Homo sapiens: one gene and its partners. The protein of the gene in region 2 purifies or fractionates together with the protein of the main gene of each other region. This does not show direct contact. Each region holds a gene or a part of one and is shown on either strand. Other genes may lie near its edges.

Region 1 (4,158 bases), on a different chromosome or scaffold from region 2:
AGGCTGCATTTCACAATTCCTGTAATGTGCCCACGTAAGAAAGAAGGCAGGTAGTCTGTTTGGTGATAGTATATTTCAAGAACTAATTGTTATTTCCTGTGAATTTGCAACCCAATGTGCTGTGAGTTGAGTTGGAACTAGAATATCAAATACCAAATAGCATACAAAAGGGATAACACTGCAAAAAAAAAATTCAAGTCAAAAATCAAAACAGAGCTCAGAGATTTCAGAAGCAATGGCTTCTTGTCAAGAATAACTGTCATTAAAATTTCCATAAGCACCAGTGAAATTGATTTTGGGGAAAAGTCTAAGGGAGGGTCTGTTTTATAAGACACACTGAAACTTTATTTTATTCTGAATTTCCCCAGCCAAGTTTGTAAGATCTCAGATTTTTCTTGGGCCCTTTCCCTGCCAAGGGGCCAAAGGTTTATCTCTATTGACACATACAGATAAAAAATTTTCATCCAGGAACCTCTATCAGCAGAGTCTGAATAGTCGTCTTTGGCTGGTGAATCACACTAAGGGAGTCTCAGTCCTGAGATGATCAGTGGTGAGAAGTTCAAAAAATAATGAAAAGAGCAAGCACTTAGGCGTCACAATACGCTTCTGGTATAACGCACCAAGCCGATGGAGCACAAGAATTGGTCTGGCGTCATTGTTTTATGTTCTCTGGATGTTGAAGAGTCTGATTTGCATTAGAAACCTCTGCATTCAATAAACAAAAATCAGGATAATAATGACCAAAGTACTATTTGGAACAGAAAACAAATTCAAGCAATGGGTGTTTTGCACTGAATTCATTCAAGATTTTATTAGTTAAGCTCTCACTTAGGTTATTAGGCTCAGCTTGCTTTTTATTTCACTGGCCTCAGTTACTGCAAACAAAAGGAGCCTGGTGTGTGTGTGTGTGTGTGTGTGTGTGTGTGTGTAAGCGCACGTGTATGAGAATGTCAGACATATCACACACAGGCTTTCTACATTCTTCACATTGGAAACCCATCAGCAAAAGGAAGAAGATCTGAAGGGAATGAGTGTTTTTTTTTTGTTTTTTGTTTTTTTCTGGTTTAGGGGATGGAGGGAGAATTTCTCTACATAAACAAGAAGGTTAGAATTGGAAGTCTGCTAAAAAAAATGTTAGAGCTGACCACAGGGTTGTAAATCCACTGACTGGAAGGAGGAAAAGAGAAACATTGCAAGCGACTGAAGTGTGTGGTGTGGCTGCAATGTTTGTGGGTTAGATGAGAAACAAGCGCTGAGTGAAACAGAGAAGGGGGGTGGCTGGTGTGATTTGTTTGGTGTTCAGAGCCAATAGAAATCCCAGACTCTGATAATATCCCCATGCAGCGCCGAGAGGATTCAGAGCTAAGTCTCCGGGCTCCTTTCACATCTGCAGGAGCAGCCAGCCTGGGACCGCGCGGCGCGGGGCGCGCTCTCGCCTCTCCTGCACCCTCAGCCGGCGCGCTTCTCTTATGGGCGTCTGCTGCAGTCTGGCTGCGGTCGAACTGAAAGCGGCGGCGGGAGACCAAACTTAGACCCCGCTGTGGACTAGAGAACTCAGAGAAGGCAGAGGGAGAGGGAGAGAGAGAGAGAGAAGGGACCCGAGGAGGAGGCTTCCATCACGTCATTGCAGGTACGCAGCTTGTCACGACTAACGTGACACAGACACGGTTTCTGATTTCTACCTTCACCAGGCACTTAGAATGAATTGACGTTGTTTGTTCCGTGGCTGGTCAGGACCGAAAGCCCTGAGTGGACGTCTCGCCGGTTTCACCCCGGGTAATTCAAGCTGTTGGCGTGTGTCTGGGGGCCACAAGGTTTATTCACCTATTGAATTATGCGTGGGTGTAACATAAGGACCTTCAAACTTGACCGTGATCGCTCTTTCTTTCTCTTTTAAATAACGTCAATACCAATATGTTGTCATCCCACCAATAAATACCTCTTGGTGACCGCCATTCTAATCATGACTATAGCGAGGCAAACACCATCCAATTGTTAGAAAGCGGGCTACGAACCTCTCCCACCTACCTACCAGGTTAATATCCTCCCTACAGGAATAGGAACCACAGCGGACTTCGGCAGAGTTTTGATTTTTTAAAGCATATGGCCAAGGTGCACCCGCCTCATGAGGGAAATATCACTATTATCACTACGCTGTGGTTGAAGGAGAAGAGAGAAGGGAGGTAGTTATTTTTTAACGTGATTGTCAGTGATCCTTCCTGTGTACCTGACTTATTTCTACATTGTCTTACGAGTTTAAAAATGCATTTGTATTCTGCACGCCAGGCACGTTCAGTTCCAGGATCTCACATATTACTACATTAAAAAGTCATGAATTGGAACTATCTAGTAGATGTGATAGTTGTAAGAAAATATTGATGTTTGATTTTATTTTATTTGATCCTAAAACTCATAAACTTCTATTTCTTTTTTTTTTTTATTTTGAGGTGTGGGTTTTGTTAAAAAAATCTATTTCCTGAGATTTTATCATGTTTGATTTGAAATTTTAAAGATAGTTATATAACTCCCCACCCCTTGATGACTTGTGATTAAATTAGCATTGCTTAATGAGTTCAGTCTTTCCTGGGAAAAGCCAGAGGGGACTGCAAGAAGTCAGTTAAAAAATTGGTCTTGCTTTGCAGTCTTCAAGGGCTGGCTGGTATTCATGTGGCTCTGAATCCCTATGAAAAGCGCTTTTTCTGCAGTGGAACAGATTGGGACTCCAGTACAGCCAGAGAATGGCTCTGCAGCAGGTGCAGGGGCAATCAAATACCTTACCTTTCGTCTAAACAGCACTCTTCCCAGTGGAGTCTTAGTCGATCATATCCAAACCATTCACTGATAATTCGCAATCGACTCACCATTCAGCCGTGCTTAGCTTTCAAGGTAGCCTTTGTCCCAAGACATGTGCCCGACCAAGGAAGATAAGAAAGTTATAAGAAAGGTATTTGTGTTGTATATCACAGTGGAGAATTTATATCGACCTTTTTTTGTTTGTTTGTTTTTTGTTTCTTATCAGATGAACATGTTCTTTCTGTCATTAAAGGAAATGCATGCTTAGCTCTACCATAGAGTCAGGAAAACTTCATAGTTTTTGCCCATCGACTGATCTGAATGATTTAACTGGGTGCTTTTTGAAATCGTGTCAAAGTATAGACATGGCAAGTGAATATTATATTTGGGAGAAGGCATTTTAACTTTATAGATAAATTTTTTTTCCTTTTACATCAGAAAGAAACTGTAAAGAACTGATCTGTGCAAATAAATATAAGTTAATCGACCCAACTACATTCTATTGGTAAAGAGTTGTTTTGTATGATTGTGAGCATTTGTCAATCTTTTATAAATAAAATAGCTGCAATAAGTTGGGACCTATTTCTGTCTTATCTTTCTAACTCTAAAGCAATGTTGGGTGTGTTGGTAGCAACTTTGTGAGTGTGAGACGGATTATATTCACTTTGTATAGACTAGGAGACACTGATGGCTTTTCAAAGATAAATATAAACAATGCTGTGATTATTCATTGTTTTTTGCTATCATTCTTCACCGAGAGAGGTAATCAACAGTTCATTCTCTATGAATCTTAGTAGAGCCAGCCAGAGCTTTACATACCCTCGAGTTATAAGTTTGGTAAAGTTTAAACAAGGTACATGCCTTTAAATCTCTTTAAAGTAAACATCTCTTTTTCTAATGCAAAGGAATGGTATTAGACTCTCAGTTCTTATTGATATGGAGAGGATTGGCCTGTCTGGGTCAAGGGCAGACACTGAGAGACTGCAGAGGCACAGGCACTCAACAGATTAGTTCAGCCACTTTTGTACTTCAGTGTTGCTACAGCAATTGCCCCTGTGCAACGTGCCAGGTTGCAGGCATGTTCTCAGTATCAGGGTCCTTCAAATATCTACGGACAAAAAAGAATTATTTCAACCAGGGAAAACGTGCCCAGCACTCGGCTTAAATGGGTCACACAAGACATTGTTTTGAAGGACAAGGTGTTCAATTAAAAATTAGACCTATGGTGCCATCTTCTTCTTGGATTAGCTGCTTCTTGATAGTTCTTTTGTTTCTAATAATATTAGGTATAATAGGCCTAATAATGTCTAGAATTAATTTTGATCACATGTCAGGCTAAAATGTGGTCCTCAGACTCAACACTGA
Region 2 (3,500 bases):
TGCTGCTAGCTTTTCCATTCAAAAACCAGCCAAGGTATGGGAGTCCTTTGCTGGTGGGCACTATTCAGTCTAATTTCCCTAAAACTCACTGAACTGACATCCCTGGGGATGAAATAGGCCCAAGTATCTTCATTTGGGGCTTGTTAGACCTAGGACTCACACATGTCTTGTTGGAATATAGCTTGGCAAAAGGTAGTCCTCCAGGCAGATGCTATATTTTAAAATAGAGAATTTATATAAAACACTCAATGGAATAAAGGTAAACAGGTTAACTATTTTCTGGACATTATAATGTTTTAAAGAGCTCTTCGGTTCAAATGATGCACCCGCCTTGGCCTCCCAAAGCGCTGGGACTACAGGTGTAAGCCACTGTGCCTGGCCCACTTCAGTTACAGCTTTGATTACCTAATGAAGAGAGAAAGGCAGTTGCTTCTAGAGCCTACAGGTGAAGATTCTGACAAACATACGTGCTTGATTCTCGAAATTCCACCAGTTTTCAAAACCAAACCTAAAGCTCTGAATATTTAATAATAATCTTTCAAAACAAACAGCCAGCCCATACCAGTGGGGGGAAAGAAGAGATTAAAATTACTTTAATTACATCCTGAGAACTACCTACAAAATGAATACACTTCCCTTAATGGTGCTAGAAAACATGTAAGTAAAGTAACAAATAATTATGATCTATAAACCATAAAGAAATATACAAATGTAAGGTATTATTTTGATACCATATTGTTTTTTATGGCAGTTGTTTTCAATAGGTCTAAAGGTGAAATTCTGTTTGGTTTTTGAATTCTTTTCAGGTTTGTAGAAGTTACTTACCTCTGTCAACATTAGCTCGCAGAGAGGTGAGCATGCCCTCAGACACCAGGGTTTTATAAAGAGCACCTTTGCAAGACCTCTCGGATTTCCTGGAACCACAAGTTTCTATTTTTCTGTGACAGTCACTGTCCTCAGGCTTGGCCTGTCCTGATAGGCTGGGTGGTAGTGCATCTTCCATAGGGGTCAATGGTTCTGCTTTTATACCCTCTGGTGTCTCACCAGAAATGTTCTTGCTAGCAGAAATACTAATGAAATCTGGAGGTCTTGACTCTTTGGTGGTGTCTGAGGATTTCTCCTTTGACATTTTCTTCTCTCTTGATTTCACTTTTTTCTTTGGTGGCTTGGCATCCAAAATGCTTCCCTTGCCACTTGAGGATGTGCGGACCTTCTTGCGAGGGGTATCTCCAAGTTTCTCTATGCCCCAGTCTCCTTTTGCGACGGCTTCAATGGTATATATGACGCTCTCAATGTCAGATTCCGAAGACTGCCTCTTTTTGCAAGTCTTCTTGGGTGTGGATTTATCATTTCCATGTCGATCCATTTTGCTTTTCTTCTTTTTCTTTTTTAGCTTTTCTGGCTTGTTTAATGCTGCGGGATCCTCAATGATCATAATTCCATGAGGATGGCACATATGATCCTTTCTACTGGGAACATCACTAATTATTATCTTGCTACTGGCAGAATAAGAAAAATCAGGAAAATGACTACATTTGTGATCTTCTTCTAACTCTTCCTTTCTAATTTCTTTGGGATCTTCCATTTTTATAGCCATTATGTCATCTATTTGCAATGCCTCAAAATTTCTCAATTCCTTAGAATCTCTTAAATTTTCCTTAGCCGATTTTTCAAATTCTGCTTCCTTCTGTAACCTAGTTTCATCTGTTTTCTCCATTTTAATTTCTTTTTCTTCCTTTCCCTTCTCTAATTCTTTAATTCTTCCACCATCGGATTCTTTTGCTTTTATTAGCTTTGATTCTTCCATTTTCATCCCTTCTGATGCCAGGCACATCTAAACAATTAAAACAAAATGGGAGAGCACCCGAAAGTATCCTTATTATTCCACCTTCAAAATTAAAGTTTTCAATTATATCTGTTTTAAAAATAATCAAAACACACTTTAAACTTTACAACAATCAGCCCACTTCTGCCAAACTAACTGAAATGAATCAAATTGATAGAAGGCTGTGGGCACTGTTATACAGTCATTTAACTCGTCAAACGTATCTCTGAATTGTCATTTTCTAGCTTCAACAGAAGCTTTTCCTATGAAAACAAGACCTGGAAGAAGGAGGAAGGGATTCAGAGTTGAAAGACCCAAGTCTGATTCTTAGTTTTGCTACTTATTAACTTTGTGACCCAGAATGAATCACTTACCCCCTCACTCCTCTGTGGCTTCTGTAAAAGGAAAACGATCCTAGGACCTATCTCAGAGGATTCTGTGTGGTCTAAGTGAAACGATGTACTTAACTGTAGCACAGGCTGAATATCCCTTATCCGAAATGCTTGAAAACGAAAGTGTTTCAAATTTTGGATTTTTTTTTTTATTTTGGAATGTTTGCGTTATATACTTACTGGTTGAGAATTCTTAAACCAAAAATCAGAAATCCGAAATGCTCCAATGAGCATTTCCTTTGAGCTTCTTGTTGGTACACAAAAAGTTTTGGATTTGGCAGTATTTTGGAGTTTGGATTTTCAGATTAGGAATGCTCAACCTGTATTTAATCATCCTCAAACTCTGTTCAGATATCTGCCTTTTCTTTTTTTCCAGGGGAAATGAGGAAAGCAGAAATAATTTCTACCTGTCCACTTGAAATTAGAAATGATATAACCATTTGCTAAACAATTACAGAAGGTTTTGATTAATGAACAAAACATTATAGGTCCACAAATGCTGATAGACAACTCTAAAGTCATAAATGCTCTGAGAACAAACTTGTTTTTGTTTTCTTAACTCACTTGCTGGCAAATTGATCTGATGTGAACTCAGCTGGCTGCAAATTCTGACCTGAACCAACCTGAAACTTTATAGTCTTAAATAGTTTATTTCACTTACTGTGACCATTCATACTTTTTGTTATTGGAATAGTGGTGCATTCAAATATGCACTGGGGAAGTTACTTAGTGTAATATGTATCTACTGTATAATTTTCCTAAAATCTGAAAGATTCTGAACACCAAAACCCATCTGGCCCCAATTTGGTTAAGTTTTTATATTTCTCATCAAAACTCCCCAAATTTCACGTACAGAACATTCAAGGGGAAAGTTGCCATTTTCCTCTCTGGCTCCCAGATACCTTGAAACTTTAATATAGAGCTATTTTTTAAAATGGGAAATTTAAGCTTATTGTAAAACCTGTTTTCAGTGCCTGGGTTTTCATTTATACACACTTAACTGCAAGGCTCCCAAAATGCCAGCCCCCATGGAGGACACTAATGATACAAAAATCAATAAGGTCAGGTCTGTCTGCCTTTGAGGAACTTATAAAGAGATTGATGATGCCGATTTGGTCAAGGGCAGCAAGGAAGTCTTAGTCATAATTTATTTTATCTACTTTGTATTAGCAACTTAGAAGGGAAAGAGTATTGGGGGTTGCTGAGTCAATGCAAAATCAAGCACATGAGTAGGAAACTGATCTGTTTTTAAAAACCATCATTTTATTAAATGGCAAGTTGTC
Region 3 (3,500 bases), on a different chromosome or scaffold from region 2:
ACACAATACAAAGAAAAGAATAATAGGTCAATTTCCTCAAATTCAGAGAATGGTTGCCAAACAAAGTGTTAAAGAAACTGTTTGCTGTTTTTTTTTTTTTTAACAGCAACATTTGAGTGAGTTTTCCTTCAGAATGTATTCAAAGTATAATATTGGGCTGTCTACCGTAAAAGATACCAAAAAAATTTGATAGTCCTGTGCTCAGGAACTGAAAAAGAGCATGAAAAATGTATGTCTGTCTCAGATATCTTTGAAAGTGTACGACTGCCACATTCTTCCGTTTTAAGCCTGACTACAGATAGCCTTCCTGACATCCTTGCTCTATATGAGGAGGTGCCTGCAGGATGAAACATAAAAGCAGAATATTGGGAAGAAAGAAGAAAAATGGCTAAGAGTTATATTCCTTGGTTGAATATATATATATATGTATATATACTTAATTAAATCTGTAATTATGCACTATATACGAGGCACTTTGCCAAGCACTTTTCCTGTATAATTTCAATAGTTACTAATGTGCTCACATTATGAAGTGTAAAATATTAAAGTAACTAAAGTAACAAAGGTAGGTCGCAGTTAGGAGTTAAACCCAATTATAGTACCTATAACCATTTTGATAAACTGTGAATAAAAAAGGCTGCAAAAAAGAAGTATGAATGTGTCTGTATAGGTTTATGAATGGAGAAAAAAAGCCGGTAATAATGAGAAATTAGAAACTAGAAAATACAAGGATTTCTTTGCTTTTAAAATTATGAGTAGATACTTTTTCTTCCTGTTTTCTTACTTCTCTGACATAGAAAGCTTGCCAGTTTGTTGCTTGTAGTTGCTGGTTATTTCATTTCGCACTCGCTGAACTAGCTCCTCATCAATAGTAAATTCTATTGCTCTGTGGATCACATTTAGCCACCAAGGAGAATTAGAATGAATCTGTAAAAAAGGTAGCAGTTAATCAATTAATACATTTTTTTTAGTACTCACTAAGCTTCCATCACTGGGCAGGGTGATGCCAAAATTCAAAGAAAGTAATAAATGCTATTCTCAAAGGGACTATCACAGAGGGGAGACGAGTATACATATTCCATGTACAATGCTCGCTTCCTCTTTTGAAAATATAATTAAAGAGAAACCCCTATTTCCTAACTACTCTGGATAAATGGGAATTTATTGAATGCATTTATATAACAAAGCTGTAACTAAAAAAACTGTTTACGCCAAATGAAAATTCAATACTCAATCTATATGTGTGAAAAGGTCACAGGTCTCTTTATCAGCATAAGAAAGAAAGCCTTCATTCTAATCTTTAACTAACTGAACCAGATTCTACTTAATGAATAATCCACAATAACTCACAAAATTATATCCCAGAATACTAAATAATGAATGAATTAGAAAGACAAAAATTTGCAACACCTGATTTAAAAACTGAAAATAAAAGTGTATTTGTGTAACCTCTTTAGATTTTGCTGCTGATTTCATAAAACTGAAATTTTAGAAATGACAAGTGGTATATATTCTGCAGGAAAAATACCTGTGGTTCTAATGTATTAACATTTTAAAACATCTCAGAAACAAGATAAAAAGGAGGTTATAGAAGTCTTTACTTTCTTCAAAAGACAACTGTTATATACTCATGGTAAGAGAAAACCCATGAGTTCAAAAGAAAGAGAACTCAAAATAGTTGACTTATTTATGCATCTGTTCACTCAACCAATAAATCATTGCTAACAGTAAAATAAACTTGTATTGTGGGTCAGGCAATGTGCTAGGTGCTAAGGATTTCAAAATGTATAAGAAATTCAAGTTTCTCCCCACCAAAAAACCAAAACTCAAAATGATATCTGGAGGCAAATACAAGTAAGAAACACTGCATTTTGGCATACCTTTCTTTGAAGCTCATGGATGGTCTGCTGCACAGGATATAAAGCTTGCTGGGCTTCAGCAACTTCTGTATTACACTTGCTCATGTAGTGCTCTCGCAGCTGTTTGGCCTGTGTTGAAACAGAGAATATAAACTTTCACTCCCAATCTAGAATATAATTCAGTATGATGTTTCAAGAAGAATGGGTCATTTTATACATTTAAAGCTACTTAACTGCATTTAAACATAAAAGTCCAAGTATACTGTAGAGAACATAAAAGTCACGCTAAAAATTCCTTATATATGGAAGTTAACAAAATTTACTTGTCCAAGTAACAAAATTTCAGAAACACCGAATATTTGTTTGCCAATTTCTTATTTAATTTTTTTTTTTAGTTAGAATAAGCAAAGAGGGGAAAAAAAGAACAGTAATATTTCAAATGATAGGCAAAGCAAAGACACCTTTCTAAAATTTGGCTAATTTAGTTATTAAAATTCCTTAGTTACTGCAGTTTAAAAATAATCCTTGAGAATACACAGTAACACAGGTGTTAGGAACTGAATTTTGTTTCCCCAAAATTCATATGCTGAAGCCCTAAGAAAGTAGATTTTAAATGTTCTCACTACACACACACACACACACACACACACACATGCATGCAATAAAAATAAAGAGGTAATTGATTTAGTTTGATTTAGCTATTCTAGTGTCTACATACATCAAAACATCAGTCTCTACTCATGAATAGATAAAATTTTTGTTAATTAAAATAGTTTACCAGGGCACCTCCGCCCCCAAAACAACCAGTGCAAAAAGGCTGTGCTTATTTATATAATCTCATTTTTTATCCTGTTGACTCAAATAAAGCCTCCACTTACAGGTTCAATACATTTCAAACATACCTACTCTTTTGATTTTAGCTCTTTAATGTTTAACAACAGCAAAAATCCCTGGAAGAATCTGCATAATAAGCTATTAACAATTTATAGTAAAATAATTTATAATATCACTCTTTTCGATGTCATTCTTTTCAAAAAGAGGCGACACTTTTTGTAGAGGAAACTTCTTTGGGAGAACTACCACCAAAAATTTGACTTTATTTACCCCCTTAAAAAATACACAGAAATGTGGAGAAAGTGCAAAAGTTTGTATATTTACTAAGCTACCTCTTTTGTAGATCTGCCATGAGATCAAAGTTTCTTTTTTAAAACTCATTTATTTACATCCCATTCTGTTGGCTACCAACAGCCATATCTACAACAAGCATTTATCACATAACTGCAGGTAGATCAGCAGAGAAGCCAAATAATACGTACTGCTGCCATTCTCTGCTACCCAAAATCACAACAAAATTCGAAACATCAAAGTAACAGGAAAACATGATTACATTTATTTGTATGTTGTATGTCCTAGGATATATCAACTATATGGAGCATAAAGTTTGAAGAAAATATACTTTTATAGACAGAATGAAAAAAATAATTACCTCTTCCTCAAGTCGGCCATCACGCAAGGTAGGTGGTATCCCTGGGTGCCTGGCTATCAACAATTCCATCAAGTTATGGGTAGCATGAAGTCTCTACAAACATATCAAAGGCAGTAATTATGACAGTCAATGCAGAAGACTCTGAAGAGAACCTA
Region 4 (3,818 bases), on a different chromosome or scaffold from region 2:
TGGTCATGTCTTGTTAGGTGCCCTTTCTTTCCCTCAACTTCTTCAGTGTATTGTGTGACTCATGGAAGATTAAATGTTGACTCTAGCCAATTCGAAGAGTAAACAACCTGGAAGGATTTTATGGAACAAAAGTATTATAATAACTACCATTTGCATAGTCCTTTATAGGTTTAAGCCACTTATTATTTGTTCATTTATTTCTTGGTACAGCCTTGTGAAAATTTGAATAGAGCTTTTGTTCCCCTTATGTTAAAGATGAGAAGACTGAAGCCCAGAAAGGTTAAGTAGGATCTTAAGTTTCATTGCTAGTAGGTGCTAATACAAGGATGAGTTCATTCTTTCATTTATTCATTCAGCAAGCAACAAGTGCTTATCATGTGTTAGGGACTGGGAAGGTTGTGGTGATACAGAATTTAACTTGCGTTTTCTAACTCCAGATCCTGTGCTTTTTCTTCTATAGTCGATGTTCACTGTATCATGGGTTATACTATTTCAGCTGCATATTCACCCCACAGGCTCACTTTGTAAGAGTGGTATTAATGTGGACCCTGCACACATACTGCACAGCTCACTACATCCACCCCACTCCCACTCAGGTTACTCTAGGCTCCTTCTATTTATGAAAGTTATTTTCTCTGTCTTCCTACTTACAGAATTATCAGAAAAGCTTAATTGATCTCAATAAAGTTATCCTACTAGATCCAAGTATTATTGAGGCAAAGATGGAACTGGAAGAGGTAACTAGACTCCTTAATCTTAAGGATAAGACAGCACCATTCAACAAAGAAAAGGAGAGAAGGAAAATTGAGATTCAAGAGGTATTTGTATTTGATTATCTTTGAAAGTACTCCTTTGGGGACCTTAGACTGGATTCTAAGGTCATATTCCTGTGAGTTCTAAAACATTTTTAATTTTGTGTTTTTATTCTGATGATCAGTGACAAAATTTTAACCAGCAACAAAATGTCTCCTTTGCAATGATAATTAGCCATTGTATTTCCCAACGTGGGTCCATGGATGGTACTGGGAGTCTCTGCATTACTGCAGTTCTTCCTTTCTTTGGCCTCCATCTGTACTGCTCCCACTCCAGAGTACACTGGGAACCAGCGGCCACTGACTTTGCTCCAGGGTAGACCTGGAGAATCCTGACGGGACTGATTTTGTTACAGGGGCCCTGAAAGCCTCACCTCATAGAGATTATCCAGATTGATTCAGACCTTTTTAGCACTCTGAAATATGACTGCCTCATCAGAGATCTCGAACTACCTCAGGATCAAACTGCTTTTGTGATTCAGATAACTAAAATGTTTTTCTCTGCCTAATATTAGGGAAGAATGTTAGGCTGTGAATCCCTGTACATTCATGAATGCTAATACCCCATTTATAGTCTCACATTTCCACTAAGAGTAAGAGGCTAATATGTAAGAGAAGCTAGGAAGGTTTTTTTTCCTCTTTAAGGAGGGAAGAAAAAACTGTTTTAGGAGAATCGAGCAATGTAAGTTCATTTCTCTGTTAAAATTTATTGTGAAAAGGAGATAAAATTGACATAGGCATTTATACAACAATTGTATAAAGTCTAAAAATTAAATTTTGTTGTCATAGTTTCAATGTCAAATAATTTTTTAAAACTTTTATGAATTGGATCTTACACCCTAAAACTTCTCTTCCTAAAAAAAATTATTACAAAGTTTTCACTTGGAACTGGACTACAGTACAGTCTACTTGTAGTTTTCAATTCTCATTCTGACAGACGTACTTAGGATGTATGTGGTGATTGTGGTTCAGTGTCACAATGCATTTTTCTTTTCTTCATGAAGGTGAATGAAGGCAAGGAGGAGCCTGGAAGACCTGCAGGGGAGGTCTCCATGGGATGCCTTGCTTCTGAGAAGGGAGGCAAAAGCAGCAGGTCACCAGAAGACCCTGAGAAACTTCCGATAGCCAAGCCTAATAATGCCTATGAATTTGGTCAGATTATAAATGCTCTCAGTACCAGGAAGGATAAAGAAGCCTGTGCACATCTTTTAGCCATCACTGCACCAAAAGATTTGCCGATGTTTTTAAGTAACAAACTTGAAGGGGATACATTCCTTCTCCTCATTCAGTCTCTGAAAAATAATCTTATTGAAAAAGATCCCTCATTGGTGTATCAGCATCTTTTATACCTGAGTAAAGCAGAAAGGTTTAAGGTAAGTGGCTAAGTATTTTATTAGTAGAAATTGGTTTTATTAGGGTTTCTGTAACTTAAAAATGTTACTTATGCTAACATAGTTGGTTTTTTGTTTTTTTTTTTTTTTGCTTCTTTTAGATGATGTTGACACTAATTAGCAAGGGCCAAAAGGAGCTAATTGAACAGCTGTTTGAGGACCTTTCGGACACACCAAACAACCATTTTACTTTAGAAGATATACAGGCCCTAAAAAGGCAGTATGAGCTTTAAATCAAGATAATTGTTAGATTTCTTCCATGCATGTATGTGTTCCAGGAATGTTAATGAGATGGTATTGTAAAAGAGTTGCATGGATAAAACTTGGCCTAGAAAAGTTTGGTCTGCACTATAAAACATTTTACTTATTTTCCTACATAGAACATGTATATTCTACAATCTGCTTTTTATTAGTTGTAAATATTTTCTTATGTACCAGAACCAAATAAGTATATTTAGAACTTGTTAAAAATACATTTTAATTTATGATATACATATTATTTTAATTACTTGTTAAAATTTTGAGTTAAGTTGCATTTCTTTGGGCTATGAAGGAGTCCTCTTAAGTTTGATAGAAATGAATTTCTTGTAACATTCTTTTTTAAAAGTGGAAGTCATTAACAGTGATTATTATATCACTTATATCCTGCTAAGATACACATAAATCCCATTTTGTACTAGTACCTGTGGATTACAGTCAGTTAAAATGAAATGCAACACTGAAGTCTATAACATGAAATGATTATTAAATTGTTTATTAATTTAGAGCTATAAGAGGAACTTATTTTTTCTAATACGGAAGCATTGCCTAATAATTAAGAACAAAAATTGCCAAAAATTTCTACCACTTTTTACTAGATTTTAAAAAGCTACTTTCTTTTATATTGCCTATATAAGCAAAAAACCAACCACTGTATTAAAGCAAACTAAGCCTGCATTTATATCTGAATTATTACCTCCATATTTTACCAAACATTTGAATGTCCCCCTTCCCCCTTTTTTGTTTTCTGCTTTTATGACTGTATTTATTCCTTTACTGTAAAAGAATATGAAGAACTCATACATGTTGAAAGCTCCTTTGTTGACTGGGTCAAAGTGAAGGAATTTCAATCTCCATCAGTGTACTGTCATTTATTTCTGCGGTCTGTAGTGCGTTCCCCCTTTCTGGAGCATTTTCTTATTCACTTAGAAGTGAAGATGAAAGTTAGTATCATGTTTACTATTTCCATATTCATTATTATTTTATCTAATCTTTTATAGTTACAGAATATTTTAACTCATCTTGGGTAAATATCTTTCAAACTGTGCCATTTTTCTTTGAAACTGCTTTCTTTGTTCATAAGTGAAAAATCTGTAATGGGACTTTAGTCTTCAAACAAAATTTCTCCTTTTTAATGTTATTGAATTTTTATAAAAGTAAATGGTGGATTGTTAGAAATGTATCCTATGTATGGAGTTTACTTACAGAAATGGGACCACTCTTTTCCTATACATAGCAACTTGAAATTAACTTTAGAGACAAAAGGGAACTTTCTCTTTTGGTGCCTGACACAGTGACATTAATAACTGTAGGTGATTTTGTTGAGCTTTGTGATAGGCACTGTGTGTCATTTATC

What was found. The genes of interacting proteins can lie anywhere in the genome.
Region 1: the proteins of BBX (region 2) and GREM2 purify together in Homo sapiens (co-immunoprecipitation; one large-scale study listed by IntAct). This does not show direct contact.
Region 3: the proteins of BBX (region 2) and SHPRH purify together in Homo sapiens (affinity purification with mass spectrometry, with the first as the bait; one large-scale study listed by BioGRID). This does not show direct contact.
Region 4: the proteins of BBX (region 2) and SPAG1 purify together in Homo sapiens (affinity purification with mass spectrometry, with the first as the bait; one large-scale study listed by BioGRID). This does not show direct contact.

The regions. Positions count from the first base shown.
Region 1 is NC_000001.11:240,609,356-240,613,513, reverse strand, and holds the start of GREM2 (gremlin-2 precursor), read left to right. Parts: upstream 1-1,358; 5' UTR 1,359-1,630; intron 1,631-4,158. UniProt on the Homo sapiens protein: Cytokine that inhibits the activity of BMP2 and BMP4 in a dose-dependent manner, and thereby modulates signaling by BMP family members. Contributes to the regulation of embryonic morphogenesis via BMP family members.
Region 2 is NC_000003.12:107,770,962-107,774,461, reverse strand, and holds part of BBX (HMG box transcription factor BBX), read right to left. Parts: intron 1,835-3,500; coding exon 826-1,834; intron 1-825. UniProt on the Homo sapiens protein: Transcription factor that is necessary for cell cycle progression from G1 to S phase.
Region 3 is NC_000006.12:145,922,859-145,926,358, forward strand, and holds part of SHPRH (E3 ubiquitin-protein ligase SHPRH), read right to left. Parts: intron 3,439-3,500; coding exon 3,346-3,438; intron 1,989-3,345; coding exon 1,881-1,988; intron 928-1,880; coding exon 785-927; intron 1-784. UniProt on the Homo sapiens protein: E3 ubiquitin-protein ligase involved in DNA repair.
Region 4 is NC_000008.11:100,238,587-100,242,404, forward strand, and holds the end of SPAG1 (sperm-associated antigen 1), read left to right. Parts: intron 1-653; coding exon 654-818; intron 819-1,816; coding exon 1,817-2,185; intron 2,186-2,304; coding exon 2,305-2,436; 3' UTR 2,437-3,318; downstream 3,319-3,818. UniProt on the Homo sapiens protein: May play a role in the cytoplasmic assembly of the ciliary dynein arms. May play a role in fertilization. Binds GTP and has GTPase activity.